3 separate regions of the Homo sapiens genome follow, and all the other regions are linked to region 2. Evidence: fine-mapped QTL for protein levels in blood plasma. A gene starts in region 2. Each other region holds a variant in brackets. All regions are shown on one strand. Distances are from middle to middle.

Region 1 (10,438 bases), 26 kb before region 2:
TGACGGTCAGTTTTATGTGCCAACTTGGCCAGGCTATAATGCCACTTATTCAATCAAACACTAATCTAGGTGTTGCTGTGAAGGTATTTTGTAGATATAATTTCAGTTTATTATCGATTCACTTTAAGTAAGGGAGATTACCTTTCTCGGCAGACCTGATCCAATCAGTTGAAACGCCTTAAGACCAGAGGCAAGGCTTCTGTTTAGAAGATTCTTTCTGTGGACAGCAGCTTCAGCTTGTGCCCAAGAGTTCCAGCCTGCCTTTCCTGACAGCCTGCTCTACAGATTTTGAACTTGCCTAACCAGTCCCATAATCATGTAACCAATTCTTCTTTCTTCTTCTTCTTCTTCTTTTTTTTTTTTTTTCTGAGACAGCATCCCAGGCTGGAGTGCAGTGGCACGGTCATGGCTCATTGTAGCCTAGACCTGCTGGGCTTAAGTGATTCTCCCACCTCAGCCTCCCAAATAGCTGGGACTACAGGCATGAGCCACCATGCCTGGCTAATTTTTAAAAATTTTTTGTAGAGACAAGTTCTCACTATGTTGCTCAGTTTGAGGCTGGTTTTGAACTCCTGAGCCCAAGCAATCCTCCCACCATGGCCTCCAATTCTTTCCAATAAATTTTTGTTGTTGTTGTTTTGAGACAGGGTCTCACTGTCACCCAGACTGAAGTGCAGTGGCACAATCACAGCTCACTGCAGCCTTGACCTTCTGGGCTCAGGTGATCCTCCCACCACAGCCTCCCAAGTAGCTGGGACTACAGGAATGCACTACTATGCACAGCTAATTTTTTTTTTATTTTTTGTAGAGACAGGGTTTCTCCAAGTTGCCCAGGCTGATTTCAAACTCCTGAGCTCAAGCAATCTACCTACCTTGGCCTCCCAAAGTATTGGGATTACAGGCAAGAGCCACAGCACCTGGCCTTACAATAAATCTTTTAAAGTCTATGTCCTGCCTATTGGTTCTGCTTCTCTGAGGGAACCCTGACTGATATAAATAGAATTTTAAAAAGCCACAGAGTTAGACAGGAGCTGCACTATGTTGGGTGATGAAAGTCATGATAAGAAGCTTGGATTTTAAGCGTACAAAGCCATTGGAAATTTATGCAGGTAAGTAGCATAATCTGATTTTTAAAATAAATTAATAAAAATAATTTTGGCTATTCTGTGTAGAATGAATTTGAGATGGGCAAAAATGGAGGCAAAGGGACCAGTTAGAAGCCTATTGATATGGACCAGTCAAGAGATGATGGTGGTCAGACTAGAACAGTAGCAATGGATTTTGAGAGAAGTGCACATATTTATAATGGATTTTGAAGTAAAACTAAGGAACTTGCTGATAGATTTGGGAGCTTGGAAGGGTAAGAGAAAACAAGGGCTCAAGGATAATGCTAGGTTTTTAGCTTGAGTGTTGGGGTTAATCATAGTGCTATTTACTTTCAACGATGACAAATTAGAGAACTTGACTCTTCATGTCAAACAAAGGATATGACAAAATTCTTCCAGCCCAGGAACATTTGGGCTTAAGGTTCTATAGCTGTTGCCTATTTCAGAGTCATTCTACCACTGGGAGAGTCCAGACCAAAAGGGCATCCAAGTCCACCCATCACAAGTGTGCACTGCAAGAAAGTCACTATTTTTGATGACTTGGTCAAACCCTGGGCAGAAATGGCTTGTGGGGGGCTCATACCTTCATGGATTTCTTTAGCTGCTTTGCATCAAAGACTGCTGGTGGAGTCACTAGGGCCACCATGAGATGCTCAAAGTGGCCAGAGAGATCACCCTTCAAGTCATCTTTCAGCTCCTAAAATCAAAAAACCAAGGGGAAAAATGTGAAATACTTTTTTTCTCTTTCTCTAAAGTCACCTAGTGAAAGATGAACATATGTATCAAAATCAGACAAAACATGTCCATCCACAGGGAATAAACAGAAGTGTTGAAAATATTTCTATGAATATTAATCTGCATTTTCTAATTACTCCCAAATTGTTCTGTTTTGTAGAGGTTTTTTGAAGGAGAGCCAAATGGGAGGATTCCATGAGTGCCACAGTTAGGAACTGTATTCAAATGCATTTCCTAGATCCGCCATGCTTTCAATGCTTAGATTGGGGTAAGGGAAGAGGAAGAGGAACCCTTATAAATTCACGCCCAGCTTCAGTGGGAGGTGCTCTCTTCCTCGGTGTCTTGCCTCTCAGTAACTCCCAAAGAGCTCCAAGAGGAAGGGGAAGGGAGGACAGTGGCTGGTCATTTGTCTCTGGTGAGAATGTGGAACTAGGTGGCATCAGAAGCAATTTTCTGGCAACAAGTAAAGAAAAGAAAACCCTAAGTGTGGCAATACATTAGACTTATTTTTTCTGACAAATAATAATTGTACTTATTCATAAGGTACATAGTGATGTTTCAATACATATAATGTATGGTAATCAGATCAGGGTAATTGCATACCCATCATCTCAAACATGTAACATTTTTTTGTTTTAGGAATATTCAATATCCTCCTTCTAGCTATTTGAAACTATATTATTGTTAACTATAGTTATCCTACAGGGCGATGGAACACTAGAATTTAGCCTCTTACAGACATTACCTATTGATATTGTTTTGAGCACTGTTTTCACACCTAAGTACAGTCCATCTCCCCTGCTTAAAGGGGGGTAACAGGGTTTCTATTTTCAATATTCAATGGCATAATACTGAATAATGTTTGTTCCTGCTCCTGATTATTTTCAGCTCTGAAATAGAGGCTGGTAGCCTCTGAGCCTGCTGAAACGCTGTGGGCACAGATTGACACAACCACACTCCTGGGGGGTGCAGCAGTGGCATGTTCCTGCTGAAACAAATGGGGTGGCATTCAGTGTTATCAACTCTGCTTTAATTGCCACAGTGTTTTTTTCCTCTCTAAATGGTAAATTTCACTACCATCTGTCCTCAATCCAAGCCACTGCAGCTGAATCTTATTTCACAGCTCTCATCCTATTCCACTGTGAGAAATGGTTGTTCCCCTCCACCTCCATCTTTCTTCCATATTTTGGAAATACCAAAAGGCCAATAGATCATTCACCTTCTCTGTATGTGAAAGTGTTGTCTTGCCCTGAAGCTAGGCAATTCACTCAATTCAACAAATGTTTTCTGGGCACCTGCTCTGTGCTAGTCCTTTAAAGGTAAGTTAGACAAAGTCCTTATCCTAAGGCATTCTGCCCTCATGGGAAAAACAGAAATATTCAAAGATAAAATTTCAATATAATATGTTATCTGATAAAGGGAGCTCAGAGAAGGGTGTCTTAATGGAGCCTGGGGGCCTGGAGAACACTCCCAGGAGGTAATTCCTGAGGTGCCTGTGGATGGTCACTAGACCCTCTCAACAGTTGGCCGGGTCTGTTTGTACCTTTTCCCCCCACAGTTCATTATCTACAGCAGCCAAAATAATCCTTTAAAAATAAAAACTGCAGTATATTATTCCTCTGCTTACAAACCTCCAGTGGTTCCCTGTAGCCCTTAGAATAAAATCTAAACCCTACCAAGACCCAAGGCTTAGCATGTTCTCAACCTGTCTCCAGCCTCATCTCTTTCTTCTGCCCCCTTCACTTTCTACATTCCTGCCATATTGGAATTCTTTATTTCTCACATATTCCCAGTTTCTTTTTGCTTCAGGGCTTTTATATTTTCTGTACCTTAAATACTATCTCCTGATCAAGCAGGGCAGAACCCCTAGTATTGTTTAGGCTTAGTGGGGAGTGAGGTAACAACCCCTCACTGACATTCCTTCATCACTCTATCTGCAGGAGCCAGTCACCAGTCACTGTCTATCATATCAACCATTTTAATTCTTTCATATCACTTATCATATCTGAATTATTTTTATTTACTTGTTTATTATATTCTAATAGAATGTTAGCTCCATGAAAGAAGGCAGGATGTGCTTTTTATACCAGTCTATTTCCAATGTCTAGGATATCTCCTAACACAGATTAGTACTCAGAAATAGACATTGGACAAATAAACTGTATAGCAAAGACCAAGTCTTACTTTTACTTTTTCCTTTTTATTTTGTTTTTTGAGACGGAGTCTTGCTCTGTTTCCAGGCTGGATCAATCTCGGCTCACTGAAGACTCCGCCTCCCGGGTTCAAGCAATTCTCCTGCCTCAGCCCTCAGCCTCCCGAGTAGCTGAGATTACAGGCATGTGCCATCACACCAGGCTAATTTCAGTATTTTTAGTAGAAATGGGGTTACACCATGTTGGCCAGGCTGGTCTCAAACTCCTGATCTCAGGTGATCCACCCGCCTCAGCCTCCCAAAGTTACTTGTTCTTATATAGTTTCTGGTAATTACTAAATTTTCTTTGCTGAATGAATTAAACCTATAACTACATAAATATTTTAAAATTAAAAGAGAAATAAAAGGTTACCTAAGACAGAATTAGTCAGATAGTTTCCTTAGTAATTCTTTGTTGTGGAGGGCTGCCTTGCGCATTCTCAGATGCTTGTAGCATCCCTGACCTATGCCTACTACATGCTAGAAGTACTCCCCACCATCCTGTTTGTGATCATCAGAATGTCTCCATTCATCCCAAATGTCCCCTGGGGAGCAAAATCACTTCTGGTTTAGAACCCACTGGGCTAAGGCAAACCTTATCCTACAGGTGAAGAAACTGAGGCCCAGAAAGACCAAGTAACATGCCCAAAGCCAGTCAGCTAGTTCAAGGCAAAACCACGACTCAGATTCCAGGCTCCTGACTGGATGCACAGGGCATCTTCTGTTACACTCAGCCTGAAACAGAAGACTGTGGGCATAACCATGTGGGAGCGACCATGGTACATTAATGATCTCTTTACTGCCTGTCATGTTAATGTGACCTTACCTTTCCATATGCTGCTTGATATTCCTTAACAATCAGCTGC[C/T]GCTGTGCATTTGACCTCTCAGTCAGAATGCTGATGAGCATTTTCTCATCAGTTCCTAAATGAAACAAAAGTTATTTTACTCAATATTTATGCTCAACATTTGTCTTGAACAAAAGCAAAATGATCAATGGCCTGAGACAAATGCAGAGAGTAAGGCATTTTAATTTCTAGCATCTTATCTGGTTGGAATTTTATTTATTTATTTATTTATTTATTTATTTATTTATTTTGTTTGCCTGAGTTTTGGAAAAAAAAAGTTAACTTTATTTGGATAGTTTTGGGGGGAAGGAAACAATCATTGTCTAAATACTCCTTTCTGTACATCAGACAAAACAACCTACTACTTTTGAACTTGACTTTTTTACCTTTATGAGGTTTGGTTACTGTCTTATTGCCTTTTATCTCTCTCCCATACTTGATATCAAAATATTTCTTCCTCTGGAAAACAGGAACCAACACTTATTGAAAATCTGCCCTGCATGAAACACCCTTTTATTCATTGCCATAGTTAATATTCACAGGGGCCCGCTGTACTAAAGATGAAGACACGAACTTATCTTCCTTGCCAAAGTCACACAACTGCTGAGTGGTCCAGCAAGAAGTTGAACCCAAATCTCTGACCCCAAAACATATATTTCTATCTTTGGTCCACATCTCTCTCATGCATTTCTTCCACATCTCTCTCTCCCTCCCTCCCTCCCTTCCTTCTTTCCTCCCTCTCTCCCTCCTTCCCTCCCTCCCTCCCTCCCTTTCTCTCTCTCTCTCTCTCTCTCTCTCTCTCTCGCTCTCTCTCTCCCCTTCGCCCTTTCTCTCTCTCTCGTTGCCCAGGCTGCAGTGCAATGGCACGATCTCGGCTCACTGCAACCACCACCTCCCGGGTTCAAGCGATTCTCCTGCCTCAGTCTCCCAAGTAGCTGGGATTACAGGCATGTGCAATCATGCCCAGCTAATTTTTTTTTTAATTTAGTAGAGATGGGGTTTCACCATGTTGATCAGGCTGGTCTCGAACTCCTGACCTCAGGTGATCCACCCGCCTCAGCCTTCCAAAGTGCCGGGATTTCAGGGGTAAGCCACCGTACCCGGCCTCTCTCATAAATTTCAAACCCATATACAAAATGAATTGTTTGTAAGCAAAAGGTAACATCAGGCCAGAGCTGATGCTGGCCTGCCTAAGAATGACCTCAAGGTCATTCTTATCTTGGTGACTACAGTAGTAAGAAAAACGTGGAAAGTTGTGTCTAATTAATTTCCCAACCCACGATGATACCTGGTTTGGGAAGCTGTGAATTGGCTTGCAGGCCTAGAGCATGCATGACTAGAGAGGTATAAAAGAGCACCTGGAACTCAATGCTCAACTTCTTTGTGTCAAGGTGACCCTCACAGACCTCATCTACACACTTCCGTGGCAGTGGTACACAGCTTACATCAATGATGAAGCAAAAGCTTCTGTGTACTTGGTTAGCTGCTGGGCCTCCCAATGAAAGATGCTGCCTTTCTGTGTCTTTGGTTTTGTATTCTTACACATAGTTAAATAAATACCGAATCAGATTAAAGTGTATTTGTGCTCTGTGGGTCTGAGCACCAATTTGGTGCTGTGTATTGTACCCAGCATCTGTGTCAGTACACTACCGGCCACCACAACTGCACAAGTATCTGAAACTCAGCACATTCTGGGTGGAATTTATTGTATTTCCTCTCTGACTTGTCTTTCTTTTTATGTTCCCTCATCCACAACTATGGATATAGTCATCCAGGCAAAAACCCTGGGAATCATCTCAGATTCCTTTCTTTATCTTATTCTCTATATTATAGCAATTATCTGCATCTCTTAAATTTGTCGTCTCCTCTGCATGCCCTCTGCTCCTGTGTCCTTATCATATTTTACCTGGATAACCTAAATCACCTCCTAATGTGACTCCCATATAATTATTCCTGTAAACTACTGCCTAAGTAAATGTTTAAAAATACAATCTGATCATGTCACCCCCTTGGCTAAAATTCTAATGGCTCTTTGTAATCTTCAGGATGAAGTTTAAGCCCCTTAGCTCATGTATCAGCTCATTATGATCTCTCCTGCCTTATGTCTTTGTTCTCATTTTCTACCCCCTCTCTGCATCTCTATAACCTATGCACCTAGACTACAACTATACCAAACTACCTGCAGTTATGTGTAGTTTGTATGCCTGGCAGTTTCTCATCTCTTATTTTTAAACATGCCCAAGATCAAAAACTAAGCCAAGATGCCTCAGGTTCAGAGACTGTGTCTGACCCATCCCTAATGCAAACACCGTTATGATACCTCATTCTGAACTCAGAACCTATCAGAAGTGGTGCTCATAAACAATAACCTCCTTCTTAAAGAAGGCCTGTAAGCCAAAGTGCAAATTCATGAAGAAACATAATGTTTAAAAAGAGGTGACAGAATTTAAAGACTATTAACCTCATGAAACAGTCTATTCAACACTAGATATAAATAGGGCAATCAGGCTGGGTGCAGTGACTCACATCTATAATCCCAGGACTTTGGGAGGACAAGGCAGAAGGATTACTTGAGCCCAGGAGTCCAAGACTAGCGTGGGCAACATAGCAAGACCCTGTCACTACAGAAAATTTAAAAATTAGGTACACATTGTGATGAGCATCTGTAGTCCTAGCAACACCAGAGGCTGAGGCCATAGGATCCAGGAGTTTGAGGCTGCAGTGGGCTGTGATCATATCACTGCATTCGAGCCTAGGTGACAGAGCAAGCCCTTCTCTCTTAAAAAAAAAATAAGGAAATCAAGAGATAAATGAAGAAATAACTTACATTGAAAAATGGAAAAAATAAACCTCAAACAGGCAGAAAAAACATAATATTATATTGATATAAAGTTCTAATATAGTATATTTATTGAATTTGACAAGCTGATTTTAAAATTCATAGAGGAGGGCAAAGAGCCAAGAAAGACCTTGCCTGGTAGATATTTAGTGTCATTATAAAATCCTAATAATTGTGACAATGTGGTGTTGGGAGGGCCAAATAGATAAATGAAGCATAACAGAGAAGAGAAAAATAGGGAAGCATAAAACATAGGTGATATTACGTACAAATCAGTGTGAAAAGGAAGAGCTCTTCAATACATTGTTCTGGGACAATTAAATGTCCACATGAAATAGAATAAAATGAGACACCTTTAAATACCATCCATGAACACTAATTCCATGTAGATTTAAGATCATAATACGAAAAATAAAATTTCAAAACTTTGAAAAAAAAAGTAGGAGAATATCTAACTTTATGACTTCGTTATAGAAAAGATTCAATAAGCATAAATCCTGGACAAAAATATTGGTAAACTTGATTTCACTAAAATTTAAAACTTCTATGCAATAAAAATTACTGTAACCAATTGTATTAATCCATTTCACGTTGTTGATAAAGACATACCCTAGCCTGGGCAATTTATGAAGGAACTCTTTAATGGAGAACTCACAGTTCCATGTGGCTGGGGAAGCCTCACAATCATGGTGGAAGGGAAGGAGGAGAAGTCACATCTTACGTGGATGGTGGCAGGCAAGGAGAGAGCTTGTGCAGGGAAACTCCACCTTATAAAGCCATCAGATCTTGTGAGACTTATTCACTATCATGAGAACAGCACGGGAAAGACCTGTCCCCATGATTCAGTCATCTCCCACCAGGTCCCTCCCACAACACGTGGGAATTATGGAAGCTACAAGATGAGATTTGGGTGGGGACACAGGGCCAAACCATGTCACCAATGTTAAAAAAAAAACCATAAACTTATAGGAAATATTTTCATGGCTTGTAATATTTTTTAAAAAGTCTGTATTGAGGAATTATAAAAAAACTCTTGCCAATCATAAAGAAGACAAACCAACTGAAAAAAATAGATAAAATATATTTTATATTTTATTGACATATGAAAGTGGAAGCAGATGCACAAGTGAGGATGCTTAACTGCATCAGTCATTGGAGTAGAGACAGGAAACAAACACACATGCAGTATAAGATACTGTTTAGACACACTTAATTAGAAAAATGGAATAGTCTTACTATAGCAAGTGTTGGTGAGAATATGGAGCAAAAGGAAGTCTTGTACATTGCTGAAAGGAATGCTAATTTCTGCATTCATTTCAGAGAGCAGTATGGCAAAATTTCTAGTTGATTTGAAGAGAAGCATCCCCATCAATGTGGAAATTCCAGTTCTTGTCATATTCTAGAGAAATGCTAGCAAATATGCACAATGAGACATGAGAGGAATATTCATTGCAGCATTTTTATATTGCAATATAAAAGAATTGTAGGCAATTTAAATGTTCCATCAATATTCCCATCTTCTGATATAGTGATGCAATAGACTACCATGCAGTTAAAATTAATGCACTAGAGCTCACCATATCAACATGGATAAATCTCAAAAACATAATGTTAAGAGACAAAAACATATTGCAGAAGAATGTATACAGTATGATTTCATTTTATGCTGTTTGAGACCATGCATAACAATATGTACATGTATATGTAGTTATGGTATTAAAAGTTTCATGGGAATGAACTCTAATTTGGGATGGTGTTTATCTCTAGGGAAAGGGGCAAGAGTGAAATCCAGGAAGAACTGACGGGATTGTGTTGGGTTTTTTTGTTGTTGTTGTTTTGTTTTTGAAATAGACTCTCACTCTGTCATCGAGGCTGGAGTGCAGTGGCACAATCACAGCTCAGGGCAGCCTCAACCTCCCTGGCTCAAAGTATCCCCCTACCTCAGCCTCCCAAGTAGCTGGGATCACAAGCCCAAGCCACTAAGCCCAGCTAATTTTTTGAGTTTTTTTGTAGAGAAGGGCCCTCCTTATATTGCCAGGCTGGTGTTGAACTCCTGGGCTCTAGTGATCCTCCTGCCTCCCCCTCCCAAAGTGCTGGGATCACAGGCAGGAGCCACCATGCCCAACCAAGGGGGCCATATTTGTAATGATTTATTATGATAATTATTACTGTTGTTGGTGGCAGTGGTGGTGGTGGTTAGATAGGACTAATACAGGATGGTCACAGGAGAACAGAAAATTCCAGGCAGCAGTTTCACATGACTAGCAAAAGGAAACTGTTGAAATAGCTGCAGAAACTAGGGGCTGATATGACCCTGAAAACCCATAGTGTGGATCAAGCTGGCTAAGACCCACTGGACCCAACATGGCGCTGGATTTGACCTAGGATTCTCCTAGGATCTCATTATATGCTAATTAACATACTCAATCACACACCCACCAGTGCCATGGCAGTTCCGGAAACACCGACATTTGGTGTAAAAAGGGGTGGCACTACAGTTTCAAGAAATCACCTTTTTCCCAGAATCTTCATGACTATTCCACCCCTTGGTTAAAGAAACCCATAAAGGCAACAGCCCCAAACCCCCTTGTGCACGACTGTCTCTTGAGTACACTCACACTCCCCTTTCCTGAGTGTGTATTTTTCACTTTGCAATAAATCTCTGTGTTTTCAGTATTTTTTGACCCATCCTTGAATTTCTTCTCTAGATGGTGTCAAGAGT
Region 2 (10,438 bases):
TGAGCCACTCATAAGTATTAGTTCTTTAATTGAGGGAGAGGAGGTAAACAGGAAAAAAAAAAAAAAAAAAAGAAAAACCCAGAGACAGTAGGAGCCCTTCTTTGGCTAGGGCCTCTTTCTCCACGTGTGGGTTTGCCCTCCAGGCTCAGGTTAGCCTCCTGTTTTTGGCCCCTCCCCACCTCTTTCCTGCTATCTGATGCCAAATGCTACCATCCCTGATGTAGCCATACTCCTAGCCCCTGTGGTAGGCAGAACAACAGCCTCCTAAAATGTATACATCATAATCCTTGGGAATTGTCAATGTATTGTGTTTCATGATGAAAGAGACTTTGCAAACATAATTAAGGTTCCAGACCTTAAAACACAGGGATTAGCCCGTGTTATCCAGGTGGGCCCAATTTAATCACACGCACCCTTAAAAGCAGAGAAATGTCTTCAGCTGGAGGGAGAAGAGAATGGCAGAAAAGAGATCCCCCAGAAAGAAAAGCCAAAGAGATTCCAAGCATAAGTAAGATTTGATGCATCATTGCTGGTTCTGAGATGCAGGGGCCACATACAAGGACAGGCAGAGACCTCCAGGAGCCAAAGACAGCTTCTGCTGGCAGCCAGCAAGCACTAAGAACTCAATTCGACAACTACAAGGAACTAAATTCTACCAACAACCTAAAAGGGCTTGGAAGAGGATTCTTCCCAAAGTCTCCAGAAAGGAATGCAGTCCCAACAACACCTTCATTTTAGTGCTGTGTGACCCATTTCAGGCTTCTAACATATAGAACTGTGAGATAATAAATGGATGTTGTTTTAAATTGCTAAATTTATGATAATTTGTCATAGTGCAATAGGAAATGAATACACCCTTGATCACACGCACTTGGGTCTCTCCTAGCCCTTCAGAAATGTGCCACGCCTTTGAAGGTGTCAGCAGGAGAGCCTGCCCAAATAATTCCATGTTAATTTACTCATGGGCGAGGGCCAGAGGGCGACTTTTTTTTTTAACACCAGCATTTTGGAGAGATGCTTTTTTCATCTGATTCTATGATATGTTCATAAAAGCAGCAGGGATTTCAGATGAAAGATGAGAGTTTAGCCTCCTAGCCAGTGAGAAGGGAGTAACTTGGGCCAAACAAAGCCTTCCAACAGCACACCTTCCATCCATACGCCAGGCCAAGGGATGGTCACATCTCTGCACAGGCTTTTCTTTAAACTTGCCCTCCACCTTACTTATAAAATATAATGTATGCTCATGATTAAAAAAAAAAATCAAACAGTACAGAAGGTGATATATTGAAAAGTAAAATTCCTTTCTCACAATTCCACCTTTCCACAAAGTTTTGATGTAATAGTCTTTCCGTAAATTTTTTATTTTCTTTGTTCTTTCTTTTAAACAGAATCCCTCTGTACATATTACTCTATAAGTTGATTTTTTAAATTATTACATCTTGGGACTTTTTTAATGTCAATTCACATACAGCTGATCCACTTTTTTCCCATTCATTTTAATGATCACATAAAAATGCCTGTAAGTTATAAATGAGTAATTTACTTATTCCTACCCTATCGATGGACATTTATGCTGTCTGCATGTTTGTTTTCATTAATACAAACAAATGTACTTGGGCCCCTATTTTTTCAACCTTATGCAAGTTTATCTATAAGATACATACCCACAAGTGGAATTACTGGGTTTAAAGGACATGTGCATTTAAGGACTGAGAGATATTGCCAAAATACTATCCAAAAGTGTACCAAATTTACTCTCCCATGAACAGAGAATAAAAATATCACCTTGCCACATCCTCTACATTACTTTTTTTTTTTAACCTTCACCAATCTCTTAAGTAGAAAAGTGTTTCTCATCATGATATTTATGTTTTTTTCAATTCTGAGATGCAGGAGTTTTTTTTTTTTAATAGATAGGGTTTCACTCTGTCACCCAAGCTGGAGTACAGTGGTATGAACATGGCTCACTGCAGCCTCCACCTCTTGGGCTTAAGCGATCTTACCACCTGAGCCTCCCAAGTATCTAGGACCATGGGTACACCCCACAACGTTCAGCTAATTTTTAAAGTTTTTTTTTTTTTTTTTTAAGAGACTGGGTCTTGCCATATTACCCATGCTGGTCTCGAACTTCTGGGCTCAAATGATCCTCCCATCTTGGCCTCCCAAAATGCTGGGATTATAGGTGTGAGCCACTGTGTCCAACCTTGTAGCACCTTCTGATGTTATTGGACATTTATAATTCTTTTTATGTCCTGTTTATGTCCCTTACAACTTTTTCTGTCAAGTTCATTTTTTAAACCAATTTATTCAAGTTATTTGTATGTTAAGGAAATAAGTCTTTTGTCTAATGTGCTGCAAATATTTTTTCCCTGCGAGCTGTCTTCTGCCTCTACCAATGGGATTGTTGGCTGTCATAGTGATAAACTTGTATGTAGTTAAAATAGATCAATATTTTTCTTTTAGGCGTTTGGTTTTGTGTCACAGTTGTAAGCATCTTCCCCACTCCAAGAATATTCTTCAATCCATTCATATTTCTTTCTCTTTTTCTATTTTTTTGAGACGGAGTCTCACTCTGTCTCTCAGGCTGGAGTGCAGTGGCATGATCTCAGCTCACTGCAACCTCTGCCTCCCAGGTTCAGGCGATTCTCCTGCCTCAGCCTCCTGAGTAGCTGGGATTACAGGCATCTGCCATCGCACCGGGCTATTTTTGTATTTCTAGTAGAGACACGGTTTCACCATGTTGGCCAGGCTGGTCTCAAACTCCTGGCTTTAGGTGATCCACCCACCTCGGCCTCCCAAAGTGCTAGGATTACAGGTGTGAGCCACCACACCCGGCCCATTCATATTTCATCTTCTTCATTTCTGTATTTTATCCACATGGAAGTTATTTTATTGTAAGGAGAAAAAGGAATACAGATTTACTTTTTCCCCAAACAGCTAGAAGTTTTCCTAACATTTATTGAATAATCCGTCTCTTCTTCTCTGATATGTCATCTTTTTCATATAATAAATTCCCAAATTATATACTAAATTTATTATCTGATTTTGACCTTTCCGCCTTGGTGTCATCATAAGTTATTTTAACTATGTAACTTTACAATGCATTTTTAAAAATATTTTATTATTTTTGACATCCTCTGGCTTTTCTAGCATGTTAATTTTGCCAGATAAACTTAAAAACTTTCCTAAAATTTTCCTTGCTATCTTGACCTTCTGTGTTTTGGTTTGACTCATATATGTTACTGTGTTGTGAAGGCTTAATTTTTACTTACCCAGATAGATGCCATGATATCCCACCTTTGCCTTGAGCTGAGATCACACTAATCTATTAAAAGAAAACAATTAGTAAATGGTATCAATATGTGATTCAGAACACAATAATCTTAGTCCAACCCTTAATCTTGAATCCAGAAAACAGATGTCAACATTCACAGAAAAACCTTCTCAGGAAGAGCATATATCTGACATTGGGTATCCCATTTGCTAAACAAACATTTACTGAGCATCTACCATATGCAAGGGACTGTGCTAGACCTGTGAGGACTTCAAGACAAGAGACAGAAAAAAATCTTTGTACTTAAGATGCTTACAAATATACTTCCTGAAAAGCCAATTTTTGACTTATTTAAAGTCCAGGAGAACTCTGCTGATTACTGACAGGCTACCACTACGGGGATCAATAACAACAAAAACACAGGATTTTACTCCTCCTCACCAAATCAACACAAAGTTTAGCTGCCTTCAGTTGGATTCCTTGTGCTTGATTGTGAAACTCCATGTACATTTTACAAGGCTCCAAGCCTACAGTCTGTTATAAAGACACATCTGCTCTTTGAGGAGGTGGTCCAGTCCTTGGTGGGGTGCAGAGGTGAAAGGCACAGTTCTTTGATTGGGAAGCCAGACACATTTTTCTTAAATAGATATTATTCAAACATGCTGGCATATCTCCAGGGTTGATTTAGAAATGCAAGTTGCTCCCACCCTTCCTGGGAACAAAATATTCTAAAAATTCCCTGACACCCCCAGAGAAAAGTTCAATGGGAAATTACACTATTAGTCTCTGGAAATATTTCACCTTGGTTTTTTCAGGCTCTCTGTAGCCTAGGGCAGTCAACTCTCCAGTTAGAGTCTAATACTGCATCTCTCTAAATACATGCTCTTTGACTTATGAGGGGTTACAGCCAGATAAACTATTCTGAAGTCTAAAAATCAGAAGTCAAACCATCTGTACAGTGAAAACAAGGCATTATTGGTTCTCATTTTGCCTCTTAAAGCTAAACACAATTTCTTTGGGCCTCAATTTCCTCATCTGTAAAAAGTGAAGAAGGGGGTGTTGCCAGCATTGAACGAGGTCAGTTTCACAGGGCTGGAGATTCTTCTTATCTGTGTGCACTGGTGCACGGTAGATATTTAAAAAAAAAACTTATTGATTAAATGAATGATTTAATACAAGCCGCACAATCATCCAGTGAGTTAGGTATTACATCTTCGTTTTGCATATGAAGAAGCTGGAGCCCAGAGAGGTATGGTAATGTCCCACAGTCACACAGCTAGTGAGTGGACCCCTACTGCATCTAGGCAGCTAGACTCTAAAGGTATGAACCTAACCCCCATGCTTCTGCCTTAATCTGCTGCCTGGCCCACACCTGACCAAATCTGACACTTAATATGCATTGATCCAGCAGAACTGGAAAATTATTAAGAATTATTACTAATCTATCATTTAACTTTTAAGATGTAAAGAATTACTCCACAGCGAAGGCCAAATGACTTAAACAGAATTTCAATATATCCTTTCCTGAAAGGGATTACATCATTTCCTTTTACTTCCTCCTCTACGGTTATTTCTAAACAGGTTTCTCTACACAACCACAGAGTTCTGGGAACAAGATTCTGGTTTTCTTTACATTTAAAAATTCCCTTTCTGGTCAGTCTGAAGTTTTCCGTCTTCGTGAAAACCAAAGGTGGTATCTTCATGGAGTAACGTTTTAATTAGTTACATTTTAAAAAATGATGTTGGTGAACATAGTAAATGTATCTTTCCCGGAGGGCAGGGTCTTGCTGTCAGTGCTGAACACAAATCCTTGGAAAGAATTCGGCCTGGGCTATGCAATTTCGTATCAGTAGCCAGAGGGGCCTCCAGCGACCCAGAACCTCCCAGCACCTGCATACTTTCCTATATATGGTCATCTGCAATCAAGTATCCAAATCTTCCACCTGGTGACTCAAATACCAAGGGAATGATTCATATCTAGTCAATAGGATTCTGTTGCAAAGAAAACGGTTAGTCTTTTCAGGAAAAAGCAAACTTCTTGAACTTCCAACCCTCAATATGCAAATCCACTGTTTTCTACCTTCTAAAAAAAATAAGTAAAATAAAATAAATTGCCTATGTGAGGGGGAGAAGATGCTCACAGGATGGGTGCGATTCCAAGTCCACAGAGCAGACCTCTGAGCCAGCCCCGTCTGCCATGCCGGGGACCCGAGGAACCTTCCGACTCCCAGCTTTTTTCTGTCCCCTAGACCTTTAGGACTGGGGAGGCCGAGATGGCTAAGTGGATCCCTTACGCTGCTAGCTGTAATAAGCGAAGCTTTCAGGGAGCGAGGACAGCTGAGTATCAGCTTGGGCCCCACCAAGACCTGGGTGACCCACCCATGGCACGGCACTTTCCCCCCCGTGGGCCCAGTCTCCTCGACTCTGAAATGCAGGACTGAGGTCCCTCCAGCTCCCCACCCACGCAGCTGGGTTGGGGCCGGGCGCGGGCGCCAGCCGCCAGCCCTGCCCAGGGTCGAGCTGCACTCGCGGGGGAACTGGGCGAGGCGCCGCGACCTCCCCAAGCCACCCGTCAGCAGGCGGCTGTGGGCGAGGCTCGCGGGGACGCGCCGGGAGGCTGAACTTACCCAAAGCGCGGTGGGGGAAACTGGTGTGCGAGTAAACTGCGAACAAACTGCGAGCGAAGGTGTCAGCCGCGGGCGCAGGTGCTCCGCGCTGGCTCCGGGTCCGGATCGCGACCGCACCCCTTCCTCCTGCCCCTCCTCCGGCCTCTCGACTCCACCTGATTGCGGCCCCAGGCCCCGGGAAAGGGAAGCCGCGCCCTGCTGCCGCCGGGCTCTATCCCTGTACACAGGCGCCCCAGCTCTGCTCCCTCACCGGTCTCTAAGCTTCCCCACCCTTTTCTCCCTACGCCCTCATTTCGCTCTCGGTTTCCACTACACCTTTACTTTCTCAAATGTACTGCAATGCTTATTTTGTTCTAGGCAGTGTGGATTCGGAGATTAGACTGTCCCTATACCTAAGGAACTCACTGCGTGGCATAGGTGGCGGACACCTAACATTAATAACATTGATCTGGCATTTACTTTGTACCAGGCACTGTTCTAACTTCTTTAAGAATATGCGCGGATTTATTAGGTTGGTGCAAAAGTAATTGCGGTTTTTGCCATTAAAATGGCTCCGACAACAACTCTATGAGGTAGATACTATTATCCCCATTTTATAGATGAGGAAATTGAGATACAGAGACGTTGGGTAACTTCAGCCAATTTACACAGAAGGTAAATGCCAGAGCTAGTGTTTGGAACCCAACTATTTCAGTAATTCCTCTACTAAACGTGTTGACCCTCTGGTATGAGGATTCCAACCAAAGGCTCAGGGAGACGGTAACCTGGAAGGGCATTCTAGGCATTTGGAAGAGCAAAACAAATCATCGAGGCTAAAAGGTTAAAGCCCTACTCGTATGAGGGAATTATGAGCAGTTGTGTGCTGAAGGATGTAGAAAAAGTTACCATGTATTGAGTATCAGGCATTGAAGTGCTTGAATACCTTACCTCTTTTATCTTCAAGGGAACTCTAGGAGGTGCTATTTTTATCACAATTTGCAGAAGAGAAAACTGAGGCTTAGAAAAGTGAAGTGATTTATCCGAGACCACGTAAGTAAAAAGTATTGCTTGCACTCAGTCATCACTGGGCCCCTTATGTATTCACCCGAAGGATTTGAAAACTTACCTCCACAAACACCTGCACATGGATGTTTATAGTAGCTTTACTCCTAAGTATCAAAAGTCGGAAGCAACCAAGATGTAATTCGTAGGTGAATGGATAAATAAACTGTGATACATCTATACAATAGAATTTTATTCAGCACTGAAAAGAAATTAGCTATCAAGCTATAAAAACACATGGAAGAAACTTAAATGCATATTATTAAGAGAAAGAAGCCCATTTGAAAATGCTACACACTATGATTCCAACTATATGACATTCCAGAAAAGGCAACACTACGGAGACAGTAAAAAAAATCACTGGTTTCTAGGAGTTGAGAGGAGGTAGGGTGAACAGGTGGAGCACAGAGGATTTTTAGAGGATAAGCATGGCTGGAGCTGCTTGAGTGTGAGTTGAAGAGATTACAGTCTTGGTCCTTAAGGCTGAGTCCTGGGACCTAGAAACTCATTAGAAATGCAAATTCCCTGAAACCCTGCGCCATCAAGTGATTCTGATGCATCCTAAAGTTTGAGAACCACTGGTTTAAGAGGAGCTACAACGGAGAAGGCAGAAGTGGTCATGCTTAAAAGGCCAGTGCCCTGGGAGCCCTCTCAGATCTACAAATCCGAAGTGATGGGCTTTCTGCAAGAGAGAAGATAGGATGGTGTTCTGCATTCTGTTCTGCATAGTAATTCCTGACTCCCATTCAGACTTCACCACAATAAACTGTTAAATCCCATGTTACCTCAAAAAATTCTGAGATTAGCATGAAATGGGGGAAAATATTTATTATTATTTGTGCCAGACACTGGGTAATGCACTTGACGTACGTGATCTATGTCATGCTTACCAACTAGCTGTAAATTAGGTATGATTGCCTCTATTTTGCAGATACAGACACAGGCTCAGAGGGACTCAGTAAGTTCTACGAGTTGTATTCCAGGCAACTAGGAAGTCATAGGGCTAGATTTATAGCCAGAAGAAAATGAGTAACAGGTGATGTTTTACATGTAGGCTTTATTTTAATTGTTTAAACCATTCAGGATTTAACTTCTTTGATTTCCTGATGGTAACTTTAACAAATGCACTTTTATCATTTTTTGAGTTTTTCTAGTTGTATCAACAGCCCAATTACCACCATTTATATTAGAAACATGCTATGGCATATTATAAAACTATTTTTTCCCCAAAGGATGAGTTTTCTTGGAAGGAAATATTAGAGGATGCTGTTAGAATCCAGGTTTATGGTTATCCAGAAAAAGAATTCAGAAAAGGTTATTTAATAAAAGTTTCATTATTCTGAATACACAGAACTTTACAGGTTAGTAAAAAGGGAATTTTCCTATAGCATCCTGATCAAAAGAACAATTTAACAGCCAAATACAAATTTTTAAAGCAAAGTTATTGAGATATATTTAGAACATATGGTAAAATGTGAAGGAAAGACCGACTACGTGATTGTGGCTGTTGAATACATAGCTGCTGTTACAGTGATGTGTTGGAGCTGGGTTATACCAGCATGTGAAAGCCAGTTCCTGAATTTTCAGTTATTTCACAGCCAGTATTAATGTAGACATTATTACAAGTTAAATAAATACAATTGAATAAATTACGTTAAAAGCAAAGGTAATAGGTACTCAAAATTAACCACTTCCTAATTATTTCACATTTTATTATTATTTTTTTTATTATTTATTTATTTATTTATTTATTTATTTATTTATTTTTTAATTGATCATTCTTGGGTGTTTCTCGCAGAGGGGGATTTGGCAGGGTCACAGGACAATAGTGGAGGGAAGGTCAGCAGATAAACAAGTGAACAAAGGTCTCTGGTTTTCCTAGGCAGAGGACCCTGCGGCCTTCCGCAGTGTTTGTGTCCCTGGGTACTTGAGATTAGGGAGTGGTGATGACTCTTAAGGAGCATGCTGCCTTCAAGCCTCTGTTTAACAAAGCACATCTTGCACCGCCCTTAATCCATTCAAACCTGAGTGGACACAGCACATGTTTCAGAGAGCACAGGGTTGGGGGTAAGGTCACAGATCAACAGGATCCCAAGACAGAAGAATTTTTCTTAGTACAGAACAAAATGAAAAGTCTCCCATGTCTACTTCTTTCCACACAGACACGGCAACCATCCGATTTCTCAATCCTTTCCCCACCTTTCCCCCCTTTCTATTCCACAAAACCGCCATTGTCATCATGGCCCGTTCTCAATGAGCTGTTGGGTACACCTCCCAGACAGGGTGGTGGCTGGGCAGAGGGGCTCCTCACTTCCCAGTAAGGGCAGCCGGGCAGAGGCGCCCCTCACCTCCCTGACGGGGCGGCTGGCCGGGCAGGGGGCTGACCCCCCCACCTCCCTCCCAGATGGGGCGGCTGGCCGGGCAGAGGGGCTCCTCACTTCCCAGTAGGGGCGGCCGGGCAGAGGCACCCCTCACCTCCCGGACGGGGCGGCTGGCCGGGCGGGGGGCTGACCCCCCACCTCCCTCCCAGACAAGGCGGCTGGCCGGGTGGGGGGCTAACCCCCACCTCCCTCCGGGACGGGGTGGCTGGCCTGGTGGGGGCTGACCCCCCACCTCCCTCCCGGACGGGGTGGCTGCCGGGCGGAGACGCTCCTCACTTCCCAGACGGGGTGGCTGCCGGGCAGAGGGGGTCCTCACTTCTCAGACAGGGCGGCTGCCGGGCGGAGGGGCTCCTCACTGCTCAGACGGGGCGGTTGCCAGGCAGAGGGTCTCCTCACTTCTCAGACGGGGCGGCCGGGCAAAGACGCTCCTCACATCCCAAACGGGGCGGCAGGGCAGAGGCGCTCCCCACATCTCAGACCATGGGCTGCCGGGCAGAGACGCTCCTCACTTCCTAGACGGGATGGCGGCCCGGAAGAGGCGCTCCTCACTTCCTAGATGGGATGGCGGCCGGGCAGAGACGCTCCTCACTTTCCAGACTGGGCAGCCAGGCAGAGGGGCTCCTCACATCCCAGACGATGGGCGGCCAGGCAGAGACGCTCCTCACTTCCCAGACGGGGTGGCGGCCGGGCAGAGGCTGTAATCTCGGCACTTTGGGAGGCCAAGGCAGGCGGCTGGGAGGTGGAGGTTGTAGCGAGCCGAGATCACGCCACTGCACTCCAGCCTGGGCACCATTGAGCACTGAGTGAACCAGACACCGTCTGCAATCCCCGCACCTCGGGAGGCCGAGGCTGGCGGATCACTTGCGGTTAGGAGCTGGAGACTAGCCCGGCCAACACAGCGAAACCCCGTCTCCACCAAAAAAATACGAAAACTAGTCAGGCGTGGTGGCGCGCGCCTGCAATCGCAGGCACTCGGCAGGCTGAGGCAGGAGAATCAGGCAGGGAGGTTGCAGTGAGCCGAGATGGTAGCAGTACAGTCCAGCTTCGGCTCGGCATCAGAGGGAGACCGTGGAAAGAGAGGGAGAGGGAGACCGTGGGGAGAGGGAGGGGGAGGG
Region 3 (10,438 bases), 58 kb before region 2:
TTCCTCTCCTTTGCTTATTCCCCAGATCGTCAACTCCTTGAAGTCAGGAAATGTGTAGCTTTCTTCACTTTTATAACTCCAACACCTGGCGTAGTTTCTGGACTACAGTTACCATGTAATAAATGTTGGAAGAATAAAGGTTGGAAGGAGTTTGGTTTGACTGATAAAAACCAAGAAAAATATTTTTCATGAAGTTATCAGATGTCAAATTCTATTTAACACCGGTTTAAATAGAATTTGCAGACATGATCTGGAACTTTCTTTGTGGACTTGGCTCTCTGACACAAAACAAAACAAAAAATTTAAATGCAACTTTGGAAATCTCTAAACTCTTCTGAGGTCTGTGGCCAGGGGCACCAATGCAAGCCAGTTACGCTGTGGATTGCTGCAGTTCTCTAAAAGGAGGGGTGAATTTGGGCTAATTCTCACCAACTCCCTACCCTTGTGACCTTTGTTCTTCTCTACTTTCTACCCCACTGTGGCATGCTCTTTTTCGTAGGAGCTGATTTTATCCCAATGTTCTTTTTCAAAACTTCCTTTTATCTGGTGGTTGATATTGTAGCAATTGGCAAATCACATCTGTCGCTTCACAGCAAGTCTGATGCTCTGCCAGGTCACCTTGGACCACTATGTTTTTTTTTGAGATAGAGTTTCACTCTTGTCACCCAGGCTGGAATGCAATGGCACCATCTCGGCTCACTGCAACCTCTTTCTCCCATGTTCAAGCGAATTCTCCTGCCTCAGCCTCCTGAGTAGCTGGGATTACAGGCATCTGCCACCACGCCCAGCTAATTTTTTTGTACTTTTAGTAGAGACAGGGTTTCACCATGTTGGCCAGGCTGGTCTCAAACTCCTGACCTCAGGTGATCTGCCTTCCTCGGTTTTCCAGAGTGTTGGGATTACAGGGGTGAGCCACCACGCCTGGCCTGGACCACTATTTATTGCCACATCCAGTTCCACAAAGTTTATGCCCAAAGAGGTCACATGTACATTTTGATAGCTAGTTTTTTCTTATGCATGGTTGTGTCATAAAACCTTTCAGCTGAATGGGCTGCTCTGGTATTCTGGGTTTGGGATTTCTTTTAACAGTTTACTGCAGCAGCCATTCAATGTTACCTCCTACTCTGTAACCCTCCTCCTCATTTGAAATTCTCCTCTCTCTCACTGTTGACTTTGTAAACTCTACAGAAATAGGCAAACTTTGGTTTCAGAGGAGGGCTGGCCCTGGTGGGTAAAACTGGCACAAAGCTGAGTTTGATGAAACTGAAAGAAATATAGCACCAGTAAAAAGGCTTCAGCACACAGCAACCTGTACTTGCTTGACTCTCACAGTCCCACGGGAGACATACAGAGTGGGTGGGAAAGATCTGAGTTTGTCAGTTTGCTGGGGGTGGGGTTGAAAAAAAATTTGGGGTACTTTCCGTGGCTCATAAAACACAAGGTTTCACAGGCAGGAAATTGCCAAGAAGTTTGCTTTATCTTCTTTCCTAATTGCAAACTAGAAGAGGTAGCTTTACAACATCTCAAAATCCCCCAAGTGATTAGAGCACTGTATAAGCAATTGTAAGTCTTCCAAACTGAGCCAGAGAATAATGGCTAATGTTTATTGAGCACTTAACGGGTGCAGGCACTGTGGTAAGTGCATCACCTAATCTGGCTTATTGAAACCTCACGCCTACTCTGAATGATACTTGCATGGCCATCCTGGCTTTACAGGTGAGGAAACTAAGGTACAGAAAGAGTAAGCGACTCACTCCCTCACATGTCATACTACTGTCAACTGATGGGCAGGAAATAAGACTAGGAAACTTTCTTCAGATCCTGTAACCTCATCACTGAGGTGAACACAGTTGGCTCTTATCGTTGGAGGACACACTGACAACATATTAATAACACTGATTTCAGCTGACAGTTCTCTGAAGCTTCCAAGGCCTCAGAGTTACTGTCGCTGAGTAGTACTAAAACAAGTATCGCTTATTTATTCTACAAATGCTTGTTGAACACTTACTATCTGCTCTTCACTGGCAACTCACCATGCCAATGCAGTTATTGGTAACTAATTTTTATTGAGTTAAATTTTTCACATGCTTTATTTCATTTCATCCTTGCACATATTTAAGGTAGGTGCTGTTATTGTCAGCTAAAGAATTGAGTTGTATGGAGGTTAAGTATTTGTCGAGCACTGTTATCTACGCTGCTGCCATAAGTGGTGAAGCCAGGATTTGAACCCAGTTTGATATGACCCCAAAATTATTGTTTTAAAGACAAAGTAAAACTGTGGGTTATCCATATGGCATGAAATTGGGGAAATGGAAATAGGGGAAGGTACATGGAAGAAATGTCTGAACTACTGTACACTATTTTAAAAATTTCCTCAATACATTCTTACAAATAGGCTAGAGAATCTCCTATTCAACATCCTCATTTGCCATTTTTGCAGCTCCTGATTTATAGACCAAACATTCTGTTACTGTAGCGTGAAGTGTACAAACCTTCTGCTTCTGCAGCTCACCAACCACAGAGCCCAGGACTCTCTGCAGCTGGCTATTTTTCTCTTCTTTCAATCTTCAGGGACTAAACTTAGGGCTTAATGAGATGACATGAATGCACTCAATTCTGCAGGTGATCCATGTCAGAGCTAATGCACATTCATGTAAATGAAGATGGTCCTGGGAATCCAGAGAAGCCAGATGATTAAATTAAATGTTCCACATGTTTCCTTAAGAAGGAGTTTACAGTGACAATAAGATTTCTGAACCATGACAAACCTTCTATAGAAGAAGTTTCCAACAGTTTAGATTTGGCCATGTTATTCTGAAGCAAGTTAAGTAGGTTTTGCCATTGGGATGCAAGGCCGTGGGGTTCACTTTGAACTTGACATGCCACCTTGTGGAAATTGGAGGCAATAAAAAATGTGGCCATTGAATACTACTCTATAATAATTATATGATACAGGCTAACATTTATTAAGGGCTTACCATGTGCTATGCACTATGTGGAATACCTTTTAAGTGTTTTTTTTCATTTATTTTTCAAAACAATCTTATGAGGTAGGTACTATTGTTGTCCCATTTTAAAGACGAGGAATATGTGGCTTAGAAAGGTAATTGCCTGAAGTCCAATGCATACAAGGCAAAACAGATGTGAGTAGAAGGGTTAGAGGGTTACCTCATTGGGGCTTTTTTTTTTTCTGCAGAATTCTCTTGTGTGATCACTACTGTGTTCAAGTTCTCACCTTCTTCAAACTCACTCATGCACAGGTAAGGTTTTTTTGTTTTGTTTTGTTTTTGAGACGGGGTCTTGCTCTGTCACCCAGGCTGCAGTACGGTGGTGTGATCATAGCTTACTGCAGCCTCAAACTCCTGGGCTCAACTGATCATCCCACTTCAGTCTCTTGAGTAGCTGAGACTATAGGTGCACACTACCACACCCAGCTAATTTTTAAATTTTTCGTAGAGACAGAGTCTCCTGATGTTTCCTGGACTGGTCTCAAACCCCTGGGCTCAAGTGATCCTTCTGTCTCAGCCTCCCAACATGCTGGGATTAGAGGTGTGAGCCACTTTGCCCAGCCACAGATAAGTTTTAAAGTCCAGATGACCCGGATCTTAAGCCTTGGCTTTGCCACTGTGTAACCCTGGGCTGGATACCTAACCTGAGTCTCATTTTCCTCACTTGCAAAACAGGGGAAATATTGACACATGTAACCATGCTTTGTTTCAGAAAGTACTTAATACATAAGTGGTATAACAACTCTGAGGATGAATGAGATCTAAAATAAAGATTCACTGTATTAAATGCCTTTTATGTGCTGAGCACTGTTCTAATCTAAGCACTAGGCATTGAAAACTACAGTGGCCCTGGGATGGGATAAATTCTAAGGCAAAACAGTGGTTAAGAGCCTGGACACTGGAGTTGGACTACCTGGCTCTTACAGTGACAAGTTACTTAATTTCTCTAAGCTTCCATTTCCATTTCTATATCTGTGTTGGTATCTACATTGTAAGATGCCTTGAGGATTAACAAATTAAAATATACTACACTGTTTAACATAGTACCTAATACATAGTAAGCACTCTATGAGTATTAACATTGATTTATTGCTTCGTGATATACTTACTCACTAAATCACTTACACTAAAATCGTGAAGGCATACTTGACTGACACTTGGTAACTTTGAATACCATGTTTACTCAATTTTATCTCCCAAATATTTAAGTAGTTGTTTTCATTATCTCCTGCCATCATCTTAGTTATGACTGACATTTATAGTATTGATTACAGAACTAACTTGCCAAATGAGCTTCCTGACTCAAGCAATCCTCCCACCTCAGCCTCCCAAGTAGCTTGGACCACAGGCATGTGCCACCATGCCAGGCTAATTTTTGTATTTTTGGCAGAGACAGGGTCTCACTAGGTTGCCCAGGCTGGTCTCAAACTCCTGGGCTCAAGCAGTCCGCCTGCTAACCTCCCAAAGTGCTGAGATTACAGGCGTGAGCCACTGCACATGGCCAGTACGATCATTTCTATTCTGGTCCAGGAAAATAACTCTAACTGGAATTTTTTTCACTTTATCTATTTCATATCAGTCAAGGTATTTCATATTAGGTCCCACTCAAAGATGGCATGATGGATTCTTTAAATGCATAGTTTTGCCAACTCAAGAGAAAAGGAAACCTTAGAGGCTTGATTCTAAATGCCCATTCTGGGAAAGTAGTATTTAGCATGAAGCAACCATAATTCATGCTTGCCATTCAGACAGGAAGTGGTTAGATTAATCCTTCAGCAGATGTTTTCTGAAAGCTGAAATAACTTATCATGCATTACCACTCCTATAGCTTGATCACAACTACAAAGGGTAGGCCAGGGTCACATACATCTTCATCTTATTCCTTTCTTTCAAAAAAGTGTGATTAACAAGGTGATAAACTGAAGCAGTAACAGCTTCTATACAGAAACATGTTTTAAAATATTAGTTGTTGGCACCAGGCATCAAACAATGTTGGCAAGCTCTGAAAGCAAACAAAGAAATTACTTTTAACAAAAGCAACAATTTTTATTATCTTGCTTTATATTTAATGGAGTAGAACTATAAAGATTCTTAACTTTGAAAGCAGAAATATAAGTTGGATAGTAGTTGCAGATCTTTAATACCATTTTCAATTTCATTTATGAGCTGCTACATTATAAATGAGATGCTCTAAAATAATAATCGCTTTTGTTGTTGTTGTTATAGAACAATGAAAATTCCTGTTAGGAACACAAGTTGCTGTTTATATTTGCTTGTTCTCTTAAATAGTATGAGAAGAAGTAAGGTGGAGCTGTTGGGAAAGCCCATCGTGGACCTTTGGAGATTATCTTCTTGGTTCAGTCATCTCCACCACAGATTTTTAAGAGTGTGATTTCATAGTCTCCAGAAGTATCCGACTGCAAAGAATAAAATCAATGAAGAACAAATACAGTATAAATAATGGGAGACCATAAATGAATCAAATCCTATAGCACTAGGGAATTCACCTGGGTGTGAGACTCATGAGCTATACCATTTAGTAAAACATACCTGCAATTCCATCATTCATTCATACCTGAGTGTAATTACGTTCTGACCAGCATCTTCTTCACTGTAAGTAATATTTAGATTCTTCCTGATATACTGCAGTTAAATTTCAATTTTGGTTTAATAAAATAAGATTGCATCACTTACATAATATTGATTTCTATAAAAACTTCAAATTTTAGTTTTAATAATATTTATCGAACACTTGCTATTCAAAAGGCTTAATGTGTATTAACTACTTTAACCCTTTTAAAAGCTCTCTGCAATAGGTACTATACGTATCCCCCATTTAACAGATAAGTAAAATGAGAAAGACAGGTTAGGAAACTTGCCTCAAATCTTATCGAGAATAAGTGACAAAAGCAGGATTTGAATCCCTATATCCTGGCTCCTTAATACCCTGCTACACTGCCTAACTTAGGAAAGTGAAATGAACCACATTTTTAAAGAATATGTTTATCAGTTCCTTTTCCCAAGGCCAACCAAAAATA[G/T]ACTGTTGTCCAGAAAAGATACTACGTGAGGTTGAGGCTTAAAGGGCAAAGATACCAAGTTTGTAACGCAAAAGACTTCACAGGAGGTAAAACTTGGCTTTCAACCTGGATTGTGTAAGATGCTCACATTATTTTTATTTTATTTGAGGTAACCCAACCAGTGAGCTCTTCTTATCACTTAAGTTTCACATTTGGAATGGCTGTTACTGGGGTGAATATTAGAGAAAGTGGTAATATAAAGGAAGTCTCAGAGAAGGCTCATTTAGTGAAGAAGTTAAGCATTACTTTCATAGTAAGACACAATAGGCCTTTATATATATTTTTCTGTTTTCTTTATTTCTTGTTCATTTGTCTGTTTCACAAAATATATGACAATATTCTTCGTTTTTATATAGATTTTAGTTCTTATGCTATTGGTTTTCCTGTCTTGCTCTGCAATAGCAGAGCTGACAAGTCAACAATGCTCCAGCTTTGTATTAAAAGAGCTCCTTCTAGACATCTCTGATCAGAGTTGTAAACAATTAGGCGTTCTACCAGTTAGTCAAGAAAATACATCCAAGTAACTCAAAGTATATTTACACCGCTAATGACTTACTTGACCTCTCCACATGTCTTACATGGCTCAAAGACATCTCAAACTCAATACATGTAAAACCAAACTCATAAACCTCCCCCCACTCCCCCAAAAGAAAAGGAAACAAACAAACAAACAAACAACCTAAAACCTGATCCTCTTGCAAGGAATGGCGCCACTGTCTGTTTTCCAAGTTAGGAACTTGAGTGTCATCCTTGCTATCTTCCTTTCCTCACACCAAGATATTATACCAAGTCCCTTAAGTTTCAACTCCTAAATATCTTTTGAGCCCTTCTTATTCTCCAGAATAAGAAGATCTTACAGGGATCTTTTCATGATCCTGATACTAACTCTTCAAGAGCTCATGCCCAGAACTCTTCAATGGCTTCCCCTTACTCTTAAGCTAAAGCCAAAATTCCTTAAACATTGCCAAAAAGGTCCTGCATGATCTGGCCCCCACATCCTCATTTTTCATTATGCTTCCTCCACCATGAGGCCTTTCCATTTGTCATTTCTTTTATTAGAATGTTCTACTGGCTCCCTTACCTCCATACATTTTGCCTTATTAATATCTACTTATTTTCCAGATCTGAATCATGACTTTCTCATAGAAGCCTTTCCTCTAAGTCAAGTCCTACTATTGTAGGATCTTTTAGCACAATGTCACTTTCCTTTACATTTAACATAGTTGTAATTCCATAAGGGCAGAAAATGTCTTCCCCCACCCTACCCCCTTTGCTTATAATTGTAACCCTGAGCCTAGCACATAATATGCATTTGATAATATTTTTAATTGAATGAGTGAATTCGCTGATCTCAAAGCTCTCTTTCAACTGAACTCATCTTGCTACTTGGATTTTATTTCTCAATATTCCCCAAGGTAGACCCTCTAATCAAACAAATGCCTTATTACTTCTTTCCCTCTTGCTTCTTCCCATATCTGTCTCTAGAGCATTTACTTTTAAGACCCTATTGATCTGGGGTCTTAAAGGTAAATGCTCCAGCAGAGCACCTGGCCCACAGGAGACACTCAACACATGCTTGTTGACCTGAAAGGCAGGCTCAAGACCCATTTCTCTAACCCCAAACTTCTTTTCTTCTCAATTCCGATAGTACTAGCTCTATATTCAACAATCTAGTATTTAATTGTCTGTTGTTTCAATTATTATCTTCTAATTGTTTCTTCATACCTACCTCAAGTCTCCACATAGATTATGAGTTGATTGTGAGTGGCTACTATATTTTCCCATAAAAAGCTTGGAATTGTGCTATTTATTAAATAAATACAGAATTTGTCTATGAAGGAAAACTACCAAAAAATATAATTTCATCTAAATTTTCCATAATATCTTCTTATAAAGTAGTAAGAGGTACACATTGGTTTTTCACCTCTGTTCTTCCTTGCCTTCTCCTTCCCACCGGTTACCCCCTGAGAAAGGTGTCAATGGACAAAGAAATGTCTAAACAATAGGTGGAAGGAAGAAAACAGGCAGGATGACAGGCTGAGATGATATGCAAAATGGAACTCTATCCCATGAATTTCAGAAACAACCATCTAAAAAGATCCTGTTCTTCAATAGCAAAAATGTAATGAGATTACTTAATAATATGTGTTAGGTGGTAGAAATAAAGAAATCTTGTACTATTTCAAACTGCAAACTGAAGTTTTCAGTGATGGATTTTTCTTTTCTATCAAACTACAAATAGTTTAAATGTTTTCTAATACAATAAGCCTCAATTACCCAGACCACTGGGGAACGGAGAGCCACTGGTTAATTTAATTTTCTGGTTTGCTGAGGGTGAACTGAAAGCCCTCTTTATGTCTCAACCTTGTTACTGACAATCTTTAGAAAATGTGTGAGTCTATTTTTCTGCCTTAGTAGCTACAACATGGTTAATGTTATTGAATCTTCCTCTGATGATTGAAACTATTGTGATGTGTCAGGACTGATTCAAATAGAATTGAGTGTGAGCAGTTGATGCAATTTGTGCTAAGTCCCAGGCACAGTCTGAGAATTGCCTTTTTGAGTAAGTTCCTGATTTCAACTTATGCATGCATCTCAGCATCTCTTTCTGTAAAAGTTTAGTGCAAAAACAAAAACTCTGATTAAAAAGAGAGAGAGAGAGATTTTAGTGAATGAATCTAGTTGACTGATTGATGTTCATTCATTCATTCATTCATTCAAAGGCCATTTGTAAAGTCAGAGGCAGAAACCTTCCCAAGATAGCTGCAGAAAGACCCAGGCTAATATTTGTGCCTGTTCAAGGGTGGCTATTGTGGGTAGGGCCATAGCGAAGGTTGGACCAAAGACTCCAGCTGCTGGCAGGGACACTGGAATGTGGTCTAAGCCAGGTGTCCCCAGGGGACATCGCTGAGTGTAAGCTCCCCCACAGAGGTAGTGCTCCAGCCTTGTAGGGGCTTGAGAGAGGGTGCTGCTACCCAGGATCAGGATGTGCATGGTGCATAATGATCCACAGCTTAGGGGGTCTAATCAGCATGGACTCCATTCCCAGTTTTAGACCCTCAGCACTCAGAGCAAACACTCTGCTTGGCTGCTGCTTCCCTCTTCATCCTGGATCACCTTCTAGGCCCCAAGTCTCAGCTTAGACCTTGGAGAGTTCACCTGGGTCCAATACTCTCTAGTGCTGATTTCCTCGAGACATTCAAGGGTAGATGGAGTAGCAAAGAGACGGAGAGGTCTGCATAGCCTGCAAGTCCTCTGCGAAGGCAGCCCTGACTCTGTCTTTTCCCCTGGTCAGTGTGGCCTTGGAGGCAAGGACAGTGGATTGCTCCACTCACCAACCCCAGCTTCCACTTTGTTCCAGGGAACCAGCTTGGACTAACACTCTCTATCACTCATTTACTAGAGACTTTCATATGTGGTCTGGAGCATCAAGGTAGAAAAGTAAATCAATGGAAGGCTACTGAGCAGGTGTGGGGCTAGCCCCTTAGTTCTCCACTAACTAGTTGCCATCTTCCTGTTGGGACTATGACTTTTGAACCACGAGCTTAAGGTACAGAAGCCTCTTGTACAATTTTTGTCAGGCTTACTGCCCTATTAATTCAAATAATTTGTAATTTATTTGAAGTTTCTATGTATAATATATCAACTGAGATCTGAAAACAATGAAAATGGGTTTCATGCTTTAAAAGAGAAAGGAAGGAGCCCATTTTAGGAAGATTCTCATCCAGAATGAAAGAAACAGAAGGGACCAGATTTTTTAAAAACTAAAATACTGTGAAAGATTGATAAATTTAATTAAATAAGATGTGCAACCTCTGCTTGGAAAAAAATACTTTTGGCCAAGTCAAAGGACAAAGAACGGACTGGGAAAATATGACCAGACAAAAGGCTAATCTACCTTATGTGAAAAACGTCTTAGAAACTGACCAAAAAGAACAAAAACCCAAAAGAATGTGGACAAAGAATGTAAAAAGACAGATCACAGAAAGAGAAATACAAATGTTATTTCAAACATGAAAATATATTCAGCCTTACTTATACTAAGAAAAATGTATATTACAACTACACTGAGATACAATTCCTCACCTATCAGATTATGAAAACCCAAAAGTTTACCTATAGTCCCAGCTACTTGGAGGCTAAGGCAAGAGGACTGCTCGAGCCCAGGAGTTCTAGGCTACAATGTATTATGATCGCACCTGTGAACAGCCACAGCACTTCAGCCTGGGCAACACAGCAAGACCCCATCTCTAAAAAATGTTTTAAAAACCTAAAAGTTTGAAAATACCCTCTGTGCCAAAGCTATGGAGAAAGAAGTTCTCATACATTCCTCATGGAATTGCAAAATGGAAT

Direction of the effects. Positions count from the first base shown, and alleles are read on the strand shown. Strength reflects both the effect of a copy and how common the allele is. Not every link is listed here.
As copies of G replace T in region 3, the plasma level of the protein whose gene starts at base 5,991 in region 2 goes up (weak association).

Evidence for each region. PIP is the posterior inclusion probability: the model's chance that the variant is causal. The UK Biobank Pharma Proteomics Project read protein levels with antibody pairs (Olink). The fine-mapping took linkage between variants from a reference panel, not from the people measured, so its PIPs are less certain.
Region 1: its variant is fine-mapped to the plasma level of the ANXA3 protein (UK Biobank, PIP above 0.99). The variant lies in the coding sequence of ANXA3. If it changes the protein, the assay may bind it differently, which can mimic a change of level.
Region 3: its variant is fine-mapped to the plasma level of the ANXA3 protein (UK Biobank, PIP above 0.99).

The regions. Positions count from the first base shown.
Region 1 is chr4:78,573,542-78,583,979 of GRCh38, reverse strand. It overlaps ANXA3 (annexin A3), which reads right to left. Exons shown (of 13, transcript NM_005139.3): 4 at 4,859-4,953; 5 at 1,690-1,803. Among named protein-coding and RNA genes, the nearest start is that of ANXA3, 27 kb to the right of the region's middle. The variant C/T (reference allele first, on the strand shown) is at 4,899.
Region 2 is chr4:78,547,323-78,557,760 of GRCh38, reverse strand. ANXA3 (annexin A3) reads right to left here and starts at 5,991. Exons shown (of 13, transcript NM_005139.3): 1 at 5,902-5,991; 2 at 3,273-3,325. The coding sequence starts at 3,287. RefSeq lists enhancers at 4,372-5,571, 4,875-5,626.
Region 3 is chr4:78,605,043-78,615,480 of GRCh38, reverse strand. It overlaps ANXA3 (annexin A3), which reads right to left. Exons shown (of 13, transcript NM_005139.3): 13 at 5,034-5,425. The coding sequence ends at 5,366. It overlaps LOC124900721 (a long non-coding RNA gene), which reads right to left and starts at 688. Exons shown (of 2, transcript XR_007058152.1): 1 at 1-688. The variant G/T (reference allele first, on the strand shown) is at 6,047.